2 linked regions of the Homo sapiens genome follow. The protein of the gene in region 2 interacts with the protein of the main gene of each other region in a biochemical or structural test. Each region holds a gene or a part of one and is shown on either strand. Other genes may lie near its edges.

Region 1 (17,458 bases), on a different chromosome or scaffold from region 2:
AGGCTGTGCCAAGAACATTTTTCAGGGTAGAATCTACCCCCCAGGCAGAGATGTGGGGAATAAAGACCAAAATGGAAACAGCACTGGCCAAGTCTGAGAGCCACGTGAAAATAGCACAGCACACTTAGGGATCTGGGGATTTGGGATTGCTGGAGTCAAAGTGTTGAGTGTGAGGGGGTAGAAAAGCATAATTATATGTAGAGTCAGTGCCTGAACAGTTCAGTCAGAAAAGCACATTTTTCAGGCTAAGAAACTTGGCCTTGGTCCTGCTTAGGTTTTACAGACAAGAGATTGCCTTTCTGAAAGCTTACCCTGGAGACTGTGTAGCTAGATGATGGGCTGAGAGAAAAGGAGGAAGGTGGATATAAGAAAGCTCCTGCAAAAATGCAGGTGAAAAATGATGAGGACCTCCACTGGGGACGGGCAGGAGAGGGCAGATTTAAGGGATGTTTGGTGAAACTTTCAAGGGGAACTGCTGATGGACTGGCAAGAGGAATCCCAGCAGGATCAGGTGGCTATGCTCTGGACGGTTTGCATAACTGTCAGTGGCACCATTCACTTCACATTGTAGTTATAATCTCTGTCAACAGTGGCACCTGGAGATGTGCAGTACACAGCCTAGGCAATCTTACAGAGAAATCCTGACTCCAAACTCATCTGTTTCTATTACTTTTGAGCTTTGGAGGGATTTAAAGTTTTTCTTTCTCTTAGGGTTTTATTTAAGCCATTTTCTTTTGGAAAAATCTCAGCTAGCATCATAGAGTGCGGTAGGAAAGGAATGTAATTGGGAAATGATATTGTCTTATTTTTCTATATAATTTAGCCACCTTTACACTTAAGATGGCAGACACGGGAATTACATTTTTTTAATGGAGTTTCCCTCTTGTCACCCAGGCTGGAGTGCAGTGGTGTAATCTCGGCTCACTGCAACCTCCACCACCCAGGTTCAAGCAATTCTCCTGCCTCAGCCTCCCGAGTAGCTGGGATAACAGGCGTGCGCCACTACGGCCAGCTAATTTTTGTATTTTTAGTAGAGGCGGGGTTTTACCATGTTGACCAGGCTGGCCTCGAACTCCTAACCTCAGGTGATCCACCTGCCTCAGCCTCTCAAAGTGCTGGGATTACAGGTGTGAGCCACCGTGTCTGGCCAGGAGCTAAACAATTTGAGGTCAAGATGTGGCGTTAACAATGTTCCCACAGATCACAGAAACACAAGTGGACAGCAGAGGCCCTTCTTGCACTAGTACTTCTACCTGGATGGGGCCTCAGAGGTCTGACTTTCCACAGGAGAAGAAAATCTTTGAGAGCCAATTTTACTGCTGGGTGCTGATGTTTTCCTCAACTGTCTAAATAAATCTTCAGCTAATAAACATTTCAATAAATCTGTTCTGGTGCCTTCCATTCCTTAAACTATACAGCCAGAGAAGATGGAACATATGAGCTTGGATTCTGTCTCTGTAGCGGATGCAGGGATATAAGTGAGCTGAGTTTTACACATTCCAAAGGGGCCACTGATCAGGTACTTCGGGATGCACTCCAAGTGTCCTGGCTAATTAAGATAAACCAAAGATTAGAAGGCATTTCTGGCTGGGTGCAGTGGCTCACGCCTGTAATCCCAGCACTTTGGGAGGCGGAGGCAGGTGGATTACTAGGTCAGGAGTTCAAGACCAGCCTGGCCATGATGGTGAAACCCCGTCTCTACTAAAAATACAAAAATTAGCCGGGTGTGGTGGCAGGCACCTGTAATCCCAGCTACTCGGGAGGCTGAGGCAGAGAATTGCTTGAACCCAGGAGGCGGAGGTTGTAGTGAGCCCAGATCGTGCCACTGCACTCCAGCCTGGGTGACAGAGCAAGACTCTGTCTCAAAAAAGAAAAGGCATTTCTTACTCTATACACAAAGTCATGAACTCGTCGTTTTGAACAGCATAAATTTACATGAAATTTCAAAACTTTGCCCCTCCTTCCCCTTTCTCCCTTGCTGGCATGTAGCTGTTTTAGTTTGTTCTAGCAGAAGATAACTATGTGCCAAGAATCCAACTGGACACGGACTAAAATTACTTTCATCTTAGTGTGTACCTTGGAAGCGTAAAGCGATTTTTCCTTGGCAACCTTGCATGGTTAGTCCACACAAACTCCATCACTATGAACATGGGTCTTCCTTTAGAGGTGGCAAAAGCATCTGTCAGAATTTGGGGCAGGTATAGCTGGATAAAGCATATTGTAAACCTATAATTTAATGCAAACTGTCAAATTTTAAATTGGCTAAAATAGTTTTAGAAGGTATGCAAAAGATCAAGTAAAATATAAGCATGGTAAGGCACACGATAAATGGTTCCAGGGAATCAGAATCTAATACGAAGTTAAGTAAACTGAGTATTTTGATTAAGTTCAAGGTTGAGTAGGGAACGTCATCCATATTTTGGGAGAAGTCCTCCAATGTGAATATGAAATTATGCTATGCATGTGAGAACAACAGTTGTCATGAACTGAGTACTTCTCACATCAGGATTGTGCTTTGCCTGTGGGCCCAGGCTCAACATGTTAGATATCTCCATTTTATAGATTAAAAAAAAAAAAAACATGAGGCCACTGTCAGTGTCTACAAACAAGTAAGAGGCAGAGTTTCGATTAAATTCTAAATTTGTGATTCAAAAACCCAGGTTCTCTTTTACACACCTCATTCCTTCTTTGTAATTCCAGAGAGCTAAATAAGTCATGCCAGAACATTTTATTTTCTATGTGGCTGAGGTTCTACCCACTCAAGAAGGTAAAAATAATAGAAAAAGCTTTCTGATGAACACCTGTGGCACACACCTGTAATCCCAGCATCTTGGGAGGACGAGGCAGGTGGATCACTTGAGCCTAAGTGTTAGAGACCAGCCTGGGCAACATGGTGAAACCCCATCTCTACAAAAAATACACAAATTAGCCAGCTATGGAGGTGCACACCTGTGGGAGGATTGCCCAAGCCCAGGGAGGTCGAGGCTGCCATGAGCTTTGATTGTACCACTGTCCTCCAGCCTGAGTGCCAAAGTGAGATCCTGTCTCAAAAAATAGAAAGGGGAAAAAAAAGTTTTCTAAGATTGTATTATGCAATTCCTCACCTCCTCCAGTATGTTACAGTGAATATTTAATAACCTTTTCCTGGAAACTCATCCTTCACATGGATGACTGGACCACACCATAAATGAGGCGATGCTCCCAGGGTCTGTGGTGGGGAGGCTATTGGTACACACAGTGGTACTTTTCCAGTTTGCTTGACAGAATATGATTTTGATTCTTCCCCTGGCTGCTGTTCATGTGTTTGAAGTCCCTTTATTTATTTATTTATTTATTTGAGACGGAGTATGGCTCTGTTGGCCAGGCTGGAGTGAAGTGGCATGATCTCGTCTCACTGCAACCTCCACCCCCCAGGTTACAGCGATTCTCCTGCCTCAGCCTCCTGAGTAGCTGAAATTATAGGCACGAACCACCACGCCCAGCCAATTTTTTAATATTTTTAGTAGAGACGGGATTTTGCCATGTTGGCCAGGCTGGTCTTGAACTCCTGACCTCAGGTGATACACTTGCCTCAGCCTCCCAAAGTGCTGGGATTACAGGCATGAGCCACTGTGCCAGGCCCCTTTTCTTTCCTTAAATGGGGATCTCCCACTGCCTTGGGAACGAGATAATCAAACCAATTAGAGCTATATGTAAAATGAAAGTAAAATAGGCCTGAAGGGCTGGCCCACAAGGACCCCATAAGAGCCCAGATTCCTTAACTTCCACTTTCATGTCAGAGCAGCCCCACTGCATACCTCTTTTGTGCTGTGTCCCAGATAAAGGAGTACATCATGTCACCGAGTTCTAAGTAAGTGGGGTGCACTGAAACTTTCAGTAGAAGCAAGATGCAAACACATACAAACATGTATGATGTTATTTATTTTCTCACTGGCACTGGCCTACTGCACTTAAACATTTCCATCAGACTCAAAAAATAATTTTATTTCAGAAAAAATATTTTACCTATTTAGCTTTTGTTTATACTGTTTTATTATTAATAGGTTTTTTTTTCTTTTTTTAAGAGATAGGATCTTGCTGTGTTGCCCAGGCTGATCTCCAATTCCTGGCTTCAAGCAATCCTCCTGTCTCAGCCTCCTGTGCAGCTGGGACTATAGGTATATGCCACTGCTCCCAGCTTGACTTAATGGAATGTGTTTTTATTCACCCATTGGAAAAGCCTTTGCTACATATTAATACAAACTTCTCATTAATAAACCCTCCTTTTTTTTTTTTTTGAGACGGAGTCTCGCTCTGTCGCTCAGGTACGATCTCGACTCACTGTAACCTCCTCCGCCTGGGGTCAAGCAATTCTCCCGTCTCAGCCTCCTGAGTACCTGGGATTACAGGTGCACGCCACCATGCCCAGCCACTAATAAATCCTTCTTTAAGTAAGAAAATAATATAACATGAGCATAACTTTGCATGAATTTTAATGTCCTGGAGGCTTGTTGCTTTGTATAAAGTGCAGGTCAGTAAAAATTAAAATGAGGTAATGTGGTATAATACGATTAACCCAGTAAGGGTACAATAAAGGATGGCTATTATTATTATTATATTGTTATTATTATTTTGAGACAGAGTTTTGCTCAGTCACCCAGGTTACAGTGCAATGGCACGATCTCGGCTCACTGCAACCTCCACCTCTGGGTTCAAGCGATTCTTCCGCTTCAGCCTCCCAAGTAGCTGGGATTACAGGCACCTGCCATCATGCCCGGCTAATTTTTTGTATTTTTAGTAGAGACGGGGTTTCATCATGTTGGCCAGGCTGGTCTTGAACTCCTGACCTCAGGTGATCCACCCACCTTGGCCTCCAAAAGTGCTGGGATTACAGGTGTGAGCCACCGCGCCAGGCCAAGGATGGCTATTATTTTCACATGAATTCAACTGAAATCACGATAGGGCAACACCAATAACAATGTTTCCTATATAGCTTAAAAACTGTTCTTTGTCATCCCCTCATCTACCCAATAGGGAATTAGAACTAGCCTGTTAGGTTGCTTGACAGGACCACTGAATGCTGGGAATCAACCATACTCTATTCTCTCATTTAACAGATGGGGAAGCAGAGGTCCAGGGAATTTGGGAAACTTGTCCACAAAGGGACAACTACTTTGTGGCTGAACTATGTCTAGGACCAGGGCTCTCTTTATCAACATGAGTATCTCCTTCCTTTATCTGCCCCTTCATGTTTACAAGGCACCTCCTCAGCTCCATGATTTTGTTTGTTACGCTACATCACTCAGCTCATGAAAACGGCTTTTTTTCCTCTTTTCTTGTCTTTGGAAGATTTTTTGCATTCTTGTAGCAGCTGATTCCATACTAACCTTTAAATTGAAAAAATATATATACACACAGACACGTATGTGAATATGTGGGAGAAACAGCACTAGGTCTCCCTGGACAACCCAGTGCAGGCCACACCTTGGCAGTCACAGAGCACAAATAAGAAATGATCTTCCCGTGTGAGTTGCTTTCGACACTTCAATGCTAAAGAGCTCAGAAGTGCTTACACTTTGAAAGAAGCCTGAAAACATTTGTAGGCTACCCTTTAATGTGTCTCATTTGGAGATAGAACAGTGAGCAGGTTGACCAGCTGCTCTTCATGTACTTCTTGCAGTAAATCCTTCAAAGAATGAAGAGTGAAGACAATTCATTTTCCCTCCTGGAATTTTTCCTTCTTATTATTTTGCTTTTTTAAAGGTTGTTATATTCAGGTATAGGCATAAGACATTATAAAAGATAAGGGGTATCATGTGAGGGAGGAAATCCGACAATCCAAAAAATCTTCCATAGAAATTAAAAATCAGAACTTGGGGGCAAGGTAGGAGGCAACACATTCTTTCTACAGAGCTGTGACACATAGCCCAACTGTCCTCAAAAGCAGGAATAAAAAAAATAAACAACAACAACAACAAAAAACAGACCTCAGCTGCATAATGAAGCTGGGGTCTTGGCCTGATAGCTTTTAATGTCCTTAAAACGGGGCTGGGCATCAAGCATCTTTTCCGGAATAGGCCAAGGAAGACAAGTCCAGTTTGGTTTTTAAGGCTTTAGTGAGCTCTGCGGCCAGCAGCTCATGGAGGGACACGCCGTCGTGGGAGTACACCCAGTTTTTCCCAGTCCAGTCATAACGCTTAGGTCCACTGGAAGACAAAACAAATGCATAGTAATTCCACAGCACAGCCCTTCAGATGAACCACTGATTCCACAAATGCTGCCCCCAAGAAATTGACTGGAGTAAAGCTCTAGAAAATAACACAAAATGAGCTAGTGTATATCTGCCTTCTTATCTTAGCATCTAAGAAGAGTTATACGATATATCTTCTGGAACAATTCCAAGAATGATTCTCAAAACCTGAAAAAACATTTGACCCTTACTGATAAGTCTCCAGGTATCACACTTTGATCTCCAGCTTTTGCTACCTCACATGTGATACCTGCTATGCTGGAGCAGTGTTTTAAAAATTAGGGCCATTTTTGTGCTACAGATGTAACTTGTGCCTTACCTATAATATTATTAGTTGTTAAGGTGAAATTCACATAACACATTAACCATTTAAAAATGAATAATTTGGTGGCATTTAGTACATTTACAATGTTGTGCAACCACTACCTCTGCCTAGCTTCAAAACATCTGCATCACCCCAAAAGGAGACCCAGTGCTGTTGTTCCTTGGTATCCATAGGGAAGGGGTTCCAGGATCTGCAGATACCAAAATCCGTGGGTACTCAAGTCCCTGATATGAAATGGTACGATACATGCATCTAACCTAGGCACATCCTTCTGTATGCTTTAAGTCATCTCCAGATTACTTATAATGCCTAGTACAATGTAAATGCTGTTAATAGTTGTTATATTGGTTTTTATTTGTATCATTTTTGTTTTGTTTTTTATTTTCAAATATTTTGATCCACGGTTGGTTGAATCAGATGTGGAACCCACAGATACACAAGGCCAACTATACCCATTAAACAGTTATTCCCCATTCCTTCCTCTCCTAGCACCCCAGCAATCACCTAAACTATTATTTTTAAAACATATTTTTCTTAATTCAGTGTTAAATTCATGACATTGAGAGCCTGGTGGGCTAGTTCATCCACCTCAAGCTCATCCAGTGAATAATGGCACATGCACGTTGCTTTGGGAATGCTGTATTCGTGTGGACAGATCGGAGGCTGGCTTCTGCCATGTCTTCTTATACCAGATGTACATTCCACTTCCTCATGGCCTCATGGATGATTGGCCACGGCAGCAGATAACACTAGTGCATGTGGCACCCTGATGGAGGTAAGAACAGAGTGCATGGGAGCCCAGAAGAAAGGGCACCTGAGTCTGCCTGAGCACTCAAGGAGGGCTTTTCCAAAGACTGAGGCTAGGATGAGGTCACCAGGAAGGGAAGCTTGGGCAATAAAAGTATCAAGGATTCCTGCATTATCAACCAAATGCTGGGGCTTGAACCTGTTCCCAGTATGGAGATAAAAATGAGTGAACCAAACCATCAGGGTCACAGGAAAAGGACTAATAAACCACACCAAGCCCAAGGACCGTCCCCTTGGCCCTATACTCTGATACTGCTATCGGGTTGCCAGGCAGAGCCTGAGTAACCTCTAGACCCCTCCACACTGCCTGAGGTGCTCTGAGCACAGGCACTGATGCCCACGTGTCCCTAGAATTCTCCTTTATTCTGCAACCTCCTCAGGGTGCGCAAGGTGGGAGGTAAGACTGCTGATTTCACAGGACCTGAAAACTTGTCAAATTAAAAAAAACAAACAAACAAAAAAAACAGGCTGCTGCAGTGGCTCACACCCATAACCCCAGCACTTTGGGAGGCTGATGTGGGAGGATTGCTTGAAGCCACGAGTTTCAGACCAACCTAGGCAACAAAGTGAGACCCCATGTTGACAAAAAAAATTATTTTTAATTAAAAATAAATAAAATTAAGAAAAAAAAAACAAAACAAAAATCAGAAATGCAGCCAGATGAAAGATATTTTGAACCAATGTGAAAGGCTGAGAGAAAAAAAAACAAAATTTTTTTTATATTAAACAACCTTTATTTGAAAAATAGTGCCTTACCATCCTAATGCTATCAATCAAACTTCAATAAGAGCAACTGCAGCATCAACCAATAACAGTTGCTAAATTAACAAGAGATCAGTCAAAAGTGCTTTAAAGGCAGCAGCACTGGCTGGTGTTTCCCTGAGCCTCTGGGCATTCAGGACCCAGGTACAGGGAAAACAGAATCAAACCAGCTGGTGTTCTGCATCCAAGCCCTCGCATCGTTACCTGCCTCCCTCCTGGTGGCCCTGGTGGCCCATGGTCCCCCTAGCACTTCTGAGCCCCTGTCAGCTGTGGGCGGGGCGCCAGGAGCCACAGGCCACTTGTAAAAGGTTGGAACTTGGTCTCATGGTCAGCTGGTTTCTTCCCATTGTGGTCATTTTCTTTTTGGAGTGCCTGGAGCACTCTCTCAATGGACACGGCGGCCCTCCAGCCTTCCTGGGCCGTTTTCTTTCTTTTTTTTTTTTTTGAGATGGGGTCTCACTGTGTCACCCAGGCTGGAGTGCAGTGGTGTGATCTCAGCTCACTGCAACCTCTGCCCCACAGACTCAGGCAATCCTTCCACCTCAGCCTCCTGAGTAGCTGGGACCACAGGCATGCATCACCACACCCGGCTAATTTTTGTATTTTTGGTAGAGACGGGGTTTCACCATGTTGCCCAGGCTGGTCTGGAACTCCTGAGCTCAAGCCATCTGCCTGCGTCAGCTTCCCAAAGTGCTAGGATTACAGGTGTGAGCTACCGTGCTTGCCCCCTGGGCCATTTTCTTACAGCAAATTGGAAGAGTCTTTCTTCAATTCCTGGGCCAGGTTTTGGGCCATCTTCATGTAGTGGTCATGGGTGTGACACATGTGGTTCAAGTTTTCATGCACCTTGCTTAGTCTCTGCTAGAGGTCGGGCAGTAGGCATCCTCCTCCGTGGACTCCCGCTATGGCCTCATCACGTTTTTGGTGCAGTTCAGGCAGAGCGGGCAGCATCAGCTGCAGCCTCAGGAGCTCCGTCTCCAGCTGTGCCCTTGCACCCTACAGAGGCCTACTCTCCAAGCTCTTTACTCCTTTGGATTTCTTCAGAGGGACTTGTAGCCAGGAAGCGGGGAGACCACCATGTCTGGTTTCCCTGTTCCCCTCCACTGCCAAGTCCCCATCATACCACCCTTGAGCAGAGGCAGGACATTCAGCGGGGTGAGTGTCAGAAAGTGACATTATTTATGCAATGTCTTGGGGGAGTGGAAAGAACTCACAGTAGCCGCTTAGCACGAGGAGGCCAGTTGCTTCACTCCAACATTCATGGCCTGTTTCATTCCTGCCTTGGCCTTTCCTTCTTCTCCTCCTTTTTTTGAGACAGTCTCACTCTGTCGCCCAGGATGGAGTGCTGTGGCACGATTTCAGTTCGTTACAACCTTCGCCTCCTGGGTTCAAGCAATTCTCCTGTCTCAGTCTCCCAAGCAGCTGGGATTACAGGTGCCTGCCACCATGCCTGGCGAATTTTTTGTATTTTTAGTAGAGACAGGGTTTCACTATGTTGCCCAGGCTGGTCTCAAACTCCTGACCTCAAGTGATCCGCCTGCCTTGGCCTCCCAAAGTGCTGGGATTACAGGCGTGAGCCACTGTGTCTGGCCCCTTCTTCTTCGCCTGCAAGCATTGCTTCTGTCTCGCAATTTCTTGGTCAGGCAGCTCTGCGGTTTGCTGATGGTCAGTGCCGTCATTCAGATAGTCTGCAGTTTGCCCCTGAAGATCCTCTCCATGGTGCTGTGAAGCATGCAGGACGCACTTTGCATCAGTCACTCGGGGAAGTTCAGGAGGCCTGCTTTTCATGCTTTTTCAGAAACTAACCTAGGTCCTGACACGAGGACCTGCTCATTTCATTTGGAACCCTCGAACAGAGGGTTTGGAGCAATCAAGGACTGGCCTCTGGCATGGTCAACGTAAGACCACCACCAGCCTGAGGTGCTGGCCGCATCTTGGCCCTGGCCTTTCTGTGGATCTCACCTTGGGCCGATTCTCCCCTTCTCAGCTTGTCATCTTCTGACTGTGAAGGCCACCACAGCAGTGCACGCCTGGGTCACCCAGGGTATTTATAGGTTCCTTGGCACTAGTCCTAAGATTCTGCACATCACTAGCACTGCCGCCCACAGGAGGGCCAGCAGCAGCTGAGTTGGCATGTCGTGGCGGCCAGCAGGCCCTCTGTGGCTCCCGAGGGCTCTGCAGCTCTGCCTCCACTTGCCAGTGGCCTGTGGGCCACAAATCACCACTCGGAACCCTGTGGGGTGTTCCGTCTCAAACAAAAACAAGGGCCCATCAGTCATTGTAGAACTTCTGTTGGGCTGGGGGGAGGGGAGGCACCCCATGTTCTAGAAAATTGTGTCCCTGATTTTGCTGTGCAAACAGAAAGTGACATTATTTATGCAATGCCTTGGGGGAGTGGAAAGAGCTCATAGTAGCCCCTTAGCACAGGCCACTCCAGGCTCCACCTGGCCCTACAGCACAGCTAGTGGGTCAAAGCAGGGCCAGGTCATAGCCCCGTGTCCACATGCGATCCTCTCAGGGTAGCATGGTGGCCTGCCTCTGTCCCTTCTGAGGCTCGTTACCAATTTCAAGCTTCCTTCTGCTGCAGGGAAGCCCGGTCCCACCTACAAAGAGTCTGTCTCCCTTGCTAGATTGAGCTCCTTGAAGATGGGACTGTGTTTTCTTCATCTCTGTATTTCCAGTAGCTCATCAATGCCCATTATACACTAGAGGCTAAGTCATTTTGGGCCCTGTTTTCTTGTTGACTCTATTCTGACTTAGGACATGTCACTTTCCCCACTGGACCTGCATATTCACATCTGTGAATAAGAGTAAGTGGGTAAAGACCCTTCTTGCTTTAAAGCCCCTCCAATACAGAGACCTCTGAAACCAGAAGCAGAAGCTGAGGAGTGGTGAATGGAGCATTTTCCCTGGCATGATGGCTGAGACCTGCAGATCTGGCTATGAGGGTGGTATCTTGCCAGTTGAATGCCTCTGCAGAATTTCACCCTACTTTTCAAAGCAGACTCAAGGATGATCTTTATTGTTGATAATTTCATGTTTTTGTTGTTGTTGTTGTTGTTTTGAGGCTTTGATATTGACACAACAGCTTCTGGAAATCTTTTCCACAGAGAGTATGGGGACTTCTTTAGCCAAGTTGGGCGGGTGCAGGCTCCAACTGCTCGGCAGCCACTGTCCGGGCCACAGCATGTCCACAACCTCCTGCTCCTCTACAGGGGTTTCTCCAGACATAACCGTGTGTCTGGTCATGCCATTTGCCACAGGTATAAAAACAATGACGACGGCCCGAAACTGCGGGATCTTCCCGCGGAATCCTGTGCCTTCGCAGGTACAGCTACACGGCGCTCCCGCGCTCCGGCCTGCTCCTTCCAAGAAGACAGGCGCAGAACGGCCTGGGTCCTGCTCCCCCGGAACCCCGCAGTCTGTGTGGGCAGCAGGCCGGGAGTGGGGAGAGCCGCCCTGGTGGTGAGGCCCGGAGCGGGACGGCTGTGTTAGGCAGCATCCTGGCCTCCAGTGACCAGCAGACTGACTCGGCCTCCATCCCCCGCTGGGAGCTGCCGTCTTGCCGCCACTTCCCACAGAAGCACTGAGAGCTTGTCCTCAGGGCCCGCTTCTCTGCCTCCCTTCCCCCGACTCCCATCCGGCGGTGGCCACTCTGGATCTGCCGGAAACGGCGCAGGAAGGGGAGGGGCCTGAGGTGGACCGGGGAGCCTGTGGTCTCTGGGTGTGGCCTGCTCTGGCCAAGGCACCTCTTCAGTCTCACCCAGTCTCAACCTGCCCCGTCCCCCATATATATATATATATTTTTTTTTTTTGAGGAAGATAGTATCTGTGACAGTAAACGGCATGCTCAGCAGATCTTTCCAAATTCCCATGCTTCTGAACACAGCTAGAGCGTATTGCTGGGCAGTGTGTCCAAATACGATATGGACGTTTTCAGTCTTCAGATATGGGGAAAGTTCTTTTGGGGTAAGTGCCTGCCCGATATCTACAAAGCCACTGATCCCCAAAAGTGATCGCTGGACCGAGCTGATCCACTTCGTTCCCCCGGAGATGAAGGATAAGAACACACAGGCTCAAGCACAGCCAGGGTCAGGAAGAATGACTGAGGCCACAGAGGCTAGTTGGCCCACAGAGGTTAAAATCCTCCAACCTCCAGCACACTAACTGGGTCTAAAAACCAATACAATCTGTGAATTAGGGCCTTCCTAGAATGACAGTGATTTCTAGTGCTGTTTTTGTTGAACTCTAGCACACTTCTTGGATGAAAGTGTGGGGAAAGGAAACACACTATTTATTCTGAACAAAGCATTAGAGATCACAGAATAATAAATGGGAAAATATTAATTACCTAAAAATGATGTCAATGTTAGGGGGTAGAGTAAGGTTATAATTTTTAAAAAATGCAAATACCGTTAGTCTTTCAAAGAATTCTATGCTAGTTTTATCTGGCCCTTTCCCAATTCACAGTCAACATGCTCTCTTTGGAAGTGCTAATGAATGACTGGATCTGAGAACGTTTTGTGGGCATTTCTCTTTTACTTTCTTACAACCACTTCAACAGCAGCCAGGCTGCTGAGGGATGAGGGATGTCTCTCCCTGCATGTTCTCAGGCTTTCAGATGCTATGCAGGCCACATTGTGTCTCCAACACAATCTTTTATTCCTCTAGATTGAAAGCACATCAATGGAAAAGGCAGGAGGGATTAAATGCCCTGGAGCAGCAATATATAACACTCTACCACCTCCACAGGGTACACAACCCCAACCTGCAAAGGGAATTCAAATAACCCTTTACCTGAGAGGCTCAAAACAAGTAGAGGTCAAACTTTAACTTGCTTTGAAGACAAAGTGCAACTTGTTCAAACGCTACAAGGTCAAAAGTAGCTTCTTTTAAAGTCAGGGCAATAATTTAATAGAGGAAAACTGTCTAGGCTGGATTTGGAAAAGTTATAAGCTACTCACTTCAGATCTTAATATCCTGATGCCTGCTTACAGTATCCAAATTGTCAGCAGGGAGAAGTTATGTAACTAGAGTAAACTTTTCTACTGAGAATGAGACAGGCTGCAAAATATCAGGAAAGGCTCACTTACAAGGATGCTAACATAAGACGATGACTTTTTTTTTTTTTTTGGGACAGGGTCTGGCCCTGTTGCCCAGGCTGGAGTGCAGTGGCGCGATCTTGGCTCACTGCAACCTCCACCTCCTGGGCTCAGGCTGAGGCTCAACCTCAGCCTTCCAAGTAGTTGGGACTATAGGCGTGTGCCACCACACCTGGCTAATTTTTATATTTTTAGTAGAGGTGGGGCTTTGTGACATTGCCCAGGCTGGTCTCAAACTCCTGAGCTCAAGTGATCCACAGGCCTTGGCCTCCCAAAGTGCTGGGATTACAGGTGTAAGCCTGCACCCAGCTGTGACTTTATTTTTATTTTCTTTACAGAGACAGGGACTCACTATGTTGCCCAGGATGGTTCTGAACTCCTGTCCTCAAGTGATCCTCCTACCTCAGCCTCTCAAAGTGTTGGGATTACAGGTGTCAGCCACTGTGCTCAGCCGACATTTCTTAAATGGTCCACAATGTCACATTTCGGAAGTCTTTAAGAATTACATATGTTGACTTCTGAACATACCTACATACCTGGATGGAGAAGATAGCCAGATTTGCTTGTTTGGCGTCTGCTTGTTGATCACATAGGTTCCTAGATCTCCACCCAGTTTGACAGTTAAGACACCACTCTAGGGGATTAGGTGGAAAAAAAGCATAAAGAAATTAAAACAAGAAAAAGTTAGCACTTTGTCATCATTGCTTCATGTTTTATCTCAACACTTTCCATTTCTACAAGTACACAAAATACACCATAAAGAAATGTCTTTTAGTATTTAGAAATAGGAGTTTGTGTAGGAAGAGCTTTGCTTTCAGAATCAGAATAGGATTAATCATAATGATGTTGTATCTCATAGAGCTTTCCCTGTTCCCTGTGAGGTCTGCAAGGTGAGAATGGTGGTGAAGCTCGGAGAGTTAAGTGACCTGTCTCAGGTCTTGGTGCTGGCATCTGGGACTGCTGGTTTGTTGCCCTCAACCATCAACCAGAACATACTAGAGGACATAAAAAAAATGCAGACTCTAACTCTATTAGAGTACCACGTCAACTCAAACATCAGACATGACAAGTCTATTACAGAGGAAGTAAAAGGAAGGTAAGGAAGTATGCAAACCATCTGCTTTGCTTGTCTTAGGAGAGCATTAGCTTCAGCTCTGTTGGTAGAAGGCAGAAACTCCAGATGAAGTTTTTTATTTCCAGACTCTTCCCACGCATCTAACAAGCTTCTCAGATACTCCTCCAAGGCTTTATTTTTCTCTAAAGAGCCTTGAATTCTTCAAAAGACTAGTTGGTGCATCTTTGACCAATAAATGCTCATTTAAATTTGAAAACACTCTTTCAACAAAAGAGTCCTTTACTTCTAAGGCCTGTGGTCTCTTTAGAATGGGTGAGATATGAAAGAAACAGCTACAGGGCTAGTTCTCTGTATTTGAACTGGTAAGCAGGGGGAAGCCTGCTGTTCCCCATCTTGTGCATGACTTGCAGAGATACACGGTGGCAGCCTTTTTCTGTGCATTCTAGAGCCTCCATCCAATCGAGAGGCTCTGAATGATTCTTATAACACACTTTTGCAAACACAGAGAGCTATTTAGGCCAGGCATGGCTCATGCCTGAAATTCCAGCACTTTGGGAGGCCGAGGCAGGCAGATGGCTTGAGCCCAGAAGTTCCAGACCGGCCTAGGCAATATGGCAAAACCCTGTCTCTACTAAAAATGCAAAAATTAGCCAAGTGTGGTGGCATGCGCCTGTGGTCCCAGCTACTTGGGAGGCTGAAGTGGGAGGATCACCTGAGCCCAGGAGGTTGAGGCTGCAGTGAGCTGAGATCACACCACTACACACCAGACTGGGCGACAGAGATCCTGTCTCAAAAGCAAAGCAAAACAAAACAAAAAACCCAAAAAACAAAGAGTTATTGAAATTCCAGAGGGTAGTAACAATAATAATATAACTGATAGGAATGGGACAAGGGGCACTACTGGGTTATTTTTTTAAAATAACATCTTTTTCTGATTCAAAAACAAATGTATAGAAATGATGGAGACGTCAGCAATGCAGACACTGATAAAAATATTAACCACTATTTACTCGGTTCCTACTGTGCCAGGCTTGGTGTTTGGCACTTTGTGTAAATTGTTTCCAACTTGACTACAATTGTTGGCGGTAGGATTCATTATTCCAGTTTCACAGATGAGGAAAACAGAGGTTCATAGTAAAGAGTACTCAGTAATTGGCAGAGCTAATCTTAAATCCAGGTCTCTGTGGGTCCAAAGACACTGTTCTTTCTATAAGATGAAGCATTCTCTCAATCCCATTAACCAGCGATAAAAGATATTCACTCTCAGGTATCAGCTGCCAGTTTTTGTTTGTTTGTTTTTACAACAGGGTCTTGCTCTGTTGCTCAGGCTGCAGCAGTGGCAGGATCATGGCTCACTGCAGCCTCAAACCCCTATGCTCAAGTGATCCTCTGACTCAGTCCCTGCCTCCAGAGAGCTGGGACTACAGACACCACACCTGTCTAATTTTAACATTTTTCTTTTGTAGAGATGAGGTCTCGCTATATTGACCAGGCTGGTTTCAAACTTCTGGCCTCAAGTGATCCTCCTACCTCGGCCTCCCAAAGTGCTGGGATTATGTTACAGGTGTGAGCTACTGCACTCGGCCCCATTTTTTTTTTTTTTAATTTTACTATAGTAAAAAGCACATAACGCTAAATTTACCATATTAACCATGTTAAGTGTACAGAACAATAAAGTATATTCACACTGCTGGGCAGCATAACTCTAGAACTTTTCACCTTGTAACACTGAAACTCTATGCCCATTAGACACTAATTTCCCCATCCCATAGCCCTTAGTAACCACCTGTCTACTTTCTATTTCTATGATTTTGACTAAAAAAAAGATGTTTTTTTAATTGAAAATAAAAATTATACATTTATGGTGGTGTTTCTGTGATTTTTGACTACTTTTGACTACTTCATCAGTGGAATCATAAGTATTTGTCCTTTTATGAGTTGACTGCCAGTTTTTGAAAGCATTTTTTAAAAGGGCTGGGATTATACAATACGTAAGTTTGTTTAAAAAAACATTTTTTTTCCTGAAACCCATTTTTACTGTTTTGGTATGACTATATTTCATTTATTTAAAAGTTTCTTAAAACTGAGGCTGCATGTGGTGACTCATGCTTGTATCCTGGCACTTCGGGAGCCCAAGGAGGGAGGATCGCTTGGGCCCAGGAGTTCAAGACCAGACTGGGCAACATGGTAAAACCTTGTTTTTACAAAAAATTACAAATTCACTGGGTGTGGTGGTGCGCACCTATAGTCACATCTACTTGGTAGGCTGAGGTGGGAGAATCGCTTGAGCCTCAGAGATTGAGGCTGCAATAACCGGTGATCACGCCACCACACTTCAGCCTGGGTGACACAGAGAACTTCTCTCAAAAACAAATAAATAAAAGTTTCTTAAAACTGTATAATTCAGGAGTTTTTAGTATTTCACAAAGTGTGCAAACATCACCACTATCTAATTCCAGCTATTTCCATTGTCCCAAAAAGAAACCCCGCACCCGTTAATACTATTTCCCACTCCTCTCATACAGAGTTTTATAAATTATTTTTCCATGAGATAAAGAGCTCATCCAACAATGATAGACTGGATTAAGAAAATGTGGCACATATACACCATGGAATACTATGCAGCAATAAAAAATGATGAGTTCATGTCCTTTGTAGGGACATGGATGAAACTGGAAATCATCATTCTCAGTAAACTATCGCAAGAACAAAAAATCAAACACTGCATATTCTCACTCATAGGTGGGAACTGAACAATGAGAACACATGGTCACAGGAAGGGGAACATCACACTCTGGGGACTGTTGTGGGGTGGAGGGAGGGGGAAGGGGGGAGGGATAGCTTTAGGAGCTATACCTAATGCTAAATGACGAGTTAATGGGTGCAGCACACCAGCATGGCACATGTATACATATGTAACTAACCTGCACATTGTGCACATGTACCCTAACACTTAAAGTATAATAATAAAAAAAAAGAGCTCAAAGAATCAACACACAATCATTGGTAATTTGTTCTCTTTGTGGCCCTTAAATGCTCCAGTTGTGTGTTGCACCCTATACTGGGGGGCCACAATCCAGCAGAAAGGGCAGAGGACTGAGTATAAGACGCGAGTTCCAGGTCTGGTCTCATCACTGATGAGCGGCGCCTGTCTGCCT
Region 2 (7,052 bases):
TGGGTGAGGGTACAGCTGATCTTATTTTTTTTCTAAATATGACAAATAGTAAATTATGGATGATGGTTTTTCTTAATATGTAGCAATAAAATAGAGATTATTTGGTGGGAATAAAATATTTTGTCAGGACAGCAGTTTGTTAGTTACCATGTTTGTAGACTGTTTTGACTCTCTTAAAAGTTATTACACAAAACATTTCCCAGTGGAAGAATTAACAACAAAATTTAGCAGTTTTAGAGCTAATTGGTAAACTCATTATTTTTGTTTAGAGAGATAGTCTCGCTCTGTCACCTAGGCTGGAGTGCAGTGGTGTGATCTCGGCTCGCTGCAACCTCTGCCTCCTGGGTTCAAGTGATTCTCCTGCCTCAGCCTCCTGAGTAGCTGGGATTATAGGCTCCTGCCACCATAGCTGGCTAGTTTTTATATTTTTAGTAGAGATGGGTTCTACCATGTTGGCCAGGCTGGACTTAAACTCCTGACCTCAAGTGACCCACCTGCCTCGGCCTCCCAAAGTGCTGGGATTATAGGCGTGAGCCACTGTGCACGGCCATTAGTGAAATTTTTAACCTTTAAGGTCCTTCTGTAGTTGTAGTTACTACTTTGCAATTTTGGATTCCTAATAGACTTTCATTAATAATGTTTAAATGGCACTTAACACAAGTACTTTTGTGTATATATTATCCATTTGATGTGCATAGGTGTTTCCACCTTGCAGTTGTGGAAATTGAAGCTCAGACTCTGACTTGCCCAGGATTGCATAGCTATCAGGTGGCTTACTGTGGACTCAAGTGCGTGTCTTCTTACCAGATTCATTTGCTTTGTCAAAACAATAAAATAAGAAACCTATCACTTGTAAATAACTAAAATACTTAATATGATACCCTAACTTTTGCATTAAAACAAAAATGACAGCAACGATGGAGGGTATGTTGGTTTGAATAACAAAACCAATAGAGACAGTTTTTGTCCCAGGACTAATTAGGGACCAAGAACATATGGCTAGGCCAAGGTTCTTTAAAGAGTTGTTCATTCCAGCCTAGTTCCTTCCTTTATTTACACAGAACAACAGGGAAGGCAAAAAGGAGAAACAGAAAAAGGAAGGATGAAATTAAACGACTTTTTTCCCCCTTTTCTCCTGGCATCTAGCTGGGAACGACAGAGCTTCTGCTAGTGGGAGTGGAAAAACAGGGGCTTTCCCTGAGGAATGCAAAATGGAAGTGCTCTCTGAAGCAGCTCCAACTTTGGGGATTTACTTGGGGTTTTTCACCCTTCACCCTGGGTGTGAAGCCTGGTATATGAAGTAATAATTAGATGTTTAGACTAATGGTCTCCAGGTTTTTATGATCACTTATTCTTTTTTTTTAATTTTTATTTTTTATTATTATACTTTAAGTTCTAGGGTACATGTGTACAACGTGCAGGTTTGTTACATATGTATTCATGTGCCGTGTTGGTGTGCTGCACCCGTTAACTCGTCATTTACATTAGGTATATCTCCTAACGCTATCCCTCCCTGCTCCCACCACCCCACGACAGGCTCCGGTGTGTGATGTTCCCACCTCGTGTCCAAGTGTTCTCATTGTTCAATTCCCACCTATAAGTGAGAACATGCGGTGTTTGGTTTTTTGTCCTTGTGATAGTTTGCTCAGAATGATGGTTTCCAGCTTCATCCATGTCCCTACAAAGGACATGAACTCATCCTTTTTTATGGATGCATAGTATTCCATGGTGTATATGTGCCACATTTTCTTAATCCAGTCTATCATTGATGGACATTTGGGTTGGTTCCAAGTCTTTGCTATTGTGAATAGTGCTGCAGTAAACATACGTGTGCATGATGATCACTTACTCTTATTGGTAAGAAAGTTGATCATATATCCTTAATGTATGTATACTTGTAAGTTAAATACATGTGCTACTATACTAACATATATTAAATACACATTTAAAAAAAAGATTCAGATTAAAACAGACTGGGAAATAGGAGCCCCCCTCCCTGCCTTTGGAAACTACCAGGGTAGACCACCAATCCCACATAAAGGAGGATTTTCACACAGGAATTCTTGTCCTTCCATTTGTCTATGGGCTCTTTCTCACCCATTTTACTGGACTCTGTTCTCTTATCTGGACAGATGGGTTTTATTTGGTTTTACAGATAATTTTTTCCTTTTGGTCATGATCTCAGCCACAGCTTACTATAATAGTTTGTTCTGTCATGTTCTTAGTATTTGAACATAATCAGTTCTGAGACAGTGCCCCTTAAAGTGAACTTAATTAAAACAAGCAACAACAGTTTGTAGTAGAGTAAAAAATGAAACCTAAACCAGACACGGTAGTACATGCCTTTAGTCTTGGCTACTTGGAGGAAGCTGAGGCAGGAGGATTGTTTGAGCCCAGGAATTTTGAGTCCAGTCTGGGCAGCATAATGAGACCTTGTCTCTTAGGGGAAAAAAAAGAAACTTAAGATTGTAAGTTTATTTTATAACATTAATCGTATTAATGAAATTTAGATTTATGATTGCAACTATGTACTAATTCTTCAAGAATGAAGCACAGTTTTTTTTTTGGAGAGGTATGCGCTTTTTCTGATAAAATTGCTTAATGGCCTAATATAACATGTTCCACTTCACTTTTGGCTTTTTGCAAATTAGGGTTTGAGAACACACAATTCTGTGATTCATTTGGGGCATATTTTAGATTGTAAGGATTCTTTTCTCTGTTGCCCAGGCGAGAGTGCAGTGGTGCAATCGCAGCTCACTGCAATCTTTGCCTCCCGAGCTCCACCCATCCTCCCATCTCAGCCTCCCGAGTAGCAGGGACTACGGGCACATGCCACCACACGAAGCTAATTTTTGTATTTTTTGTAGAGACAGGATTTTGGCATGTTCCCCAGGTTGGTCTGGAACTCCTGGGCTGAAGCCCATATTAGCCTCCCAAAGTGCTGGGATTATATAGGTGTGAGCCACGGTGCCTGACCAGTTCTTTGCTTCTTAACATAGCACTGTCATTGCTGTGGGAACTTGCATAGTAAATACTTGGGTGATACAAACCCTCTGTACATTGCTAGCTAGGTATTTTCAGACTAATATATATAACTTTGTAATTTTCATATAGAACAATCTATATTAATATGCAAATTTCCATAGCATTTTTTAAGTAGGTAGAGTCATTACAAGGTGATGGCAAATTTATACTTTTTCCCCAAGGAAAAAATCTTTTGTACTATAGGGGTTTATATGTTAAATTTTAATTTTGTCCTGTTAAGTATATCTGATGTTTTTCTCCTAGGCTAATCATTTAGTATTGAGTGATGGGTCAGTGTCATGATTTCTGATTTTGGTTTAATAGATTTTAATAGTGAAAGTTAAGATTGCTGGCACGTTTTCTTATATTTTATTTTCAATTAGCTGTAGAAATTCTTGCTGATATAATACAAAACAGCACATTGGGAGAAGCAGAGATTGAACGTGAGCGTGGAGTAATCCTTAGAGAGATGCAGGAAGTTGAAACCAATTTACAAGAAGTTGTTTTTGATTATCTTCATGCCACAGCTTATCAAAATACTGCACTTGGACGGACAATTTTGGGACCAACTGAAAATATCAAGTAGGTATAACAGAATTTCTTGGTGTATAAGGGAATTTATGAATGTTGAAAATAAACATTTACAAATTTTCAAAAAGTATGTTTCAGAAAGTAATTTTCCCCCTGGTAATCTAAGTGAAACTGTAGTTAGCTACATTTTAGTCCCACCTAGCTCCCAAGCACGTGAGTTCATAGGTACTTCGGGAATAAACCAGTAATGGTGTATTTTTTCTTTGATGTAAAAAAGGTGAAGTTCTTTGATGTGTTGCCTGTATCCTATTTCTGACTGCATTTTAGGATACAGTTATGGTCCAATTTGATTTCAGGTATATTATGTGAAGATCTGTTTTTTTTTTGGTTTCCTTTAAAAATTGTTTTACTTCATTTACAGATCTATAAGTCGTAAGGACTTAGTGGATTATATAACCACACATTATAAGGGGCCAAGAATAGTGCTTGCTGCTGCTGGAGGTTAGTCAATTTAAATTTCTACAAATGTTTTAAACACAGTTGTTGGAGTGGTATGCTTATTAGTTTGATCCTGTTGGGAGATACCCTAAGAATTTTCATTTACATAGCAAATAACTGATAGTGTGTAAGGGGAATGTGGAGCACTGGAATCAGAATTTCCCTCTATTTTTTTTAAAGTAGGTTTCATTTAGGCCAGGCATGGTGACTCACACCTGTAATCCCAGCACTTTGGGAGGCCGAGGTGGGCGGATCACGAGGTCAGGAGTTCAAGACCAGCCTGACTAATATGGTGAAACCCCATGTCTACTAAAAATACAAAGTAGCTGGGCGTGGTGACATGCGCCTGTAGTCCCAGCTACTCGGGAGGCTGAGGTAGGAGAATTGCTTGAACCCAGGAGGCGGAGGTTACAGTGAGCCAAGATTGCACCACTGCACTCCAGCGTGGGCGACAGAGTGAGACTGTCTCAAAAAAAAAAAAGAAAAGTAGGTTTTATTTATAGAAAGACTTAATGAACTGTTCAATACATAAGCGTACATAGTAGAACGTGCAAGAAAAGGGCAAAGGAGTGAACTGGGAGAGAGTCGGAAGATGGTGTTCTGTACTTTGAGAATTTTTTGAGATTTTAAATTATTTCTTGAGAACCAACTTCGTCCTTGTTCAAGCATGGAACGGGTATGTTCATTCTTTGATTTGTTCAATCATTCATTTAATAGATCTAATTTTTGGGAAGGAGAAGCACATAGGGAGCCATAAGAATGTTGAATGGGAATCCAAACATGCAGGTGACTTCAGAAGGTTTCCTTGAGGTCATGTTTGAAGCCAGTGAATGAAAAAAAAAATTGACAACAGATATTGCCAGATTTCCTGGCAGTCTGAATCTAGACAGCAGTACATTTTAATTGGTTTCCAGTTTTTTATTTTTTTCTTTTTAAAATACATTTATAGAAATAGAGATGGATTCTTAACTATGTTGCCCAGGCTGGTTTCAATCTCCTGAGCTCAAGTTATCCTTCCACCTTGACCTCCCAAAACTTGGGGATTACAGGCGTGACCCACCGCACCTGGTCTCCAGTTTTCATTTCTTTGTATTTTTTAATATTAGAGCAAAGCGAAGTGTTCTTTCGTGTTGTAAATTTTTCTCTTTTTAGAGATCATAATTTAAAAATTCTAGTTGCTCTGGATTGATTTCTGAGCTAAGTACCTGGCGGGTAATGGAGAAGATGAAAACATTAAATATCAAACATGTTATTCATTGTAGCTACCTTCATTGTACATGGCAGGAAGTGCACTCTGAAATTCTCTTGAGTAACATTGTTTCTAAATTGGCTCTTGCAGACTTGGGCTTAAGTGTTTGAAACTGCCTTGGAAATGGGACAAGAGACTTGTTAGATGGGTCCTCAACAACCAAGCTTTCTGGGACCTCTCTGCCATTGTTGGTGGCATGTGGACAAAATGAGTTTTACTTTGGTTCATGGGTTCATTTTGACATAGCTAAAATTGAGATATCTTTAGTTTAATGGCTTATAGATTAATTAGTATTCATTTTAAATACTACATAAGTGATGTGCCTTATAAATGATTGCATCTTAAATTCAATGAAATAGGCCAGTTTTAAGTTTCTGCTGACCTCTGAATTATGTCTTGGCTACCATTTATCTCTTCTAGGCTAATCATCAGGATGTATAGCTTTTATTTGCCAAATAGTTTTTTGTATCCTAGCTTCATTTATTATAAAATTATAATTTAACATTTTAATTGTAAATTAAGTTAAAGAATCTTAATTTGGGTCTCAAGTAAGGGATATAGAGTCTAAGTAATTCCTGAGTTTTTGCATTTGGATACCTATTGATGTATTCAGAAATTTAGATGACACTATTTTGTTCCTGAGTTCTTTTTTTTTTTTTTTTTGAGATGGAGTTTTGCTCTTATTGCCCAGGCTGGAGTACAATGGCATCATCTTGGCTCACCGCAAACTCCGCCTTCCGGATTCAACTGATTGTCTTGCCTTAGCCTCCCGAGTAGCTGGGATTACAGGCATTTGCCATCACACCTGACTAATTTTGTATTTTTAGTAGGGATGGGGTTTCTCCATGTTGATCAGGCTGGTCTACCTCTACCTCTGACCTCAGGTGATCCGCCTGCCTCAGCCTCCGAAAGTGTTGGGATTACAGGCGTGAGCCACCACACCAGGCCCTGTTCCTGAGTTCTGATAGCAGAGCATGGAGAATAAAGTTTATCTGTGTATCCAGCTTTCTTTTATTTATTTAATTTTATTTATTTTAGAGACAGAGTCTTGCTCTGTCACCCAAGTTGGAGTGCAGTGGTGTGATCTCAGCTCACTGCAAACTCCACCTCCTAGATTCAAGCAGTTCTCCTGCCTCAGCCTCCTGAATAGCTGGGATTATTACAGGCGCCTGCTACCATGCCCAGCTAATTTTTGTATTTTTAGTAGAGACAGGGTTTTACCATATTGGCCAGGCTGGTCTTGAACTCCTGATCTCAAGTGACCTGCCCACCTTGACTTCCCAAAGTGCCGGGATTACAGGTGTGAGCCATGGCACCCGGCTTTTAAAATTTATTTTATTGAGACAGAGTCTTGCTATGTTGTCCAGGCTGGTCTTGAACTCCTGAACTCAAATGATCCTCCCACCTCAGCCTCCTAAAGAACTGGGATTATAGGCGTGAGCCACCATGCCCAGCTCCAGCTTTTTAAAAATTAGATAGAGCCCATATTTGTATTTTCCACTAAAAAATTTTTTTTTTGAAAATTGGCATTTTTTGCTAGTTTGGATCCCAGAGGTTTTTATAATTTAATAGAAAATGATTTTGTAAAACGTGGAGTTTTCAAGTTGTCTTATTCTTAGCTGTGAATCCATTGGTCTGTTGATGAAAACTGTCATTTGCTCTACAAAATGAGAAAGCTGTGCAACCTCAAGCTTTGCAACACCAAGGAAATAGGTGTGCTATGTGAGCTTACTCTTAAATAATGGCTTTT

Evidence for each region.
Region 1: the proteins of PMPCB (region 2) and FXN form a complex in vitro, tested with the Homo sapiens proteins (one study listed by BioGRID).

The regions. Positions count from the first base shown.
Region 1 is NC_000009.12:69,061,339-69,078,796, reverse strand, and holds part of FXN (frataxin, mitochondrial isoform 1 preproprotein), read right to left. Parts: intron 13,860-17,458; coding exon 13,762-13,859; coding exon of another isoform or gene 13,754-13,761; intron 6,186-13,753; coding exon 6,035-6,185; 3' UTR 1-6,034.
Region 2 is NC_000007.14:103,300,435-103,307,486, forward strand, and holds part of PMPCB (mitochondrial-processing peptidase subunit beta isoform 1 precursor), read left to right. Parts: intron 1-3,407; coding exon 3,408-3,606; intron 3,607-3,976; coding exon 3,977-4,056; intron 4,057-7,052. UniProt on the Homo sapiens protein: Catalytic subunit of the essential mitochondrial processing protease (MPP), which cleaves the mitochondrial sequence off newly imported precursors proteins. Preferentially, cleaves after an arginine at position P2.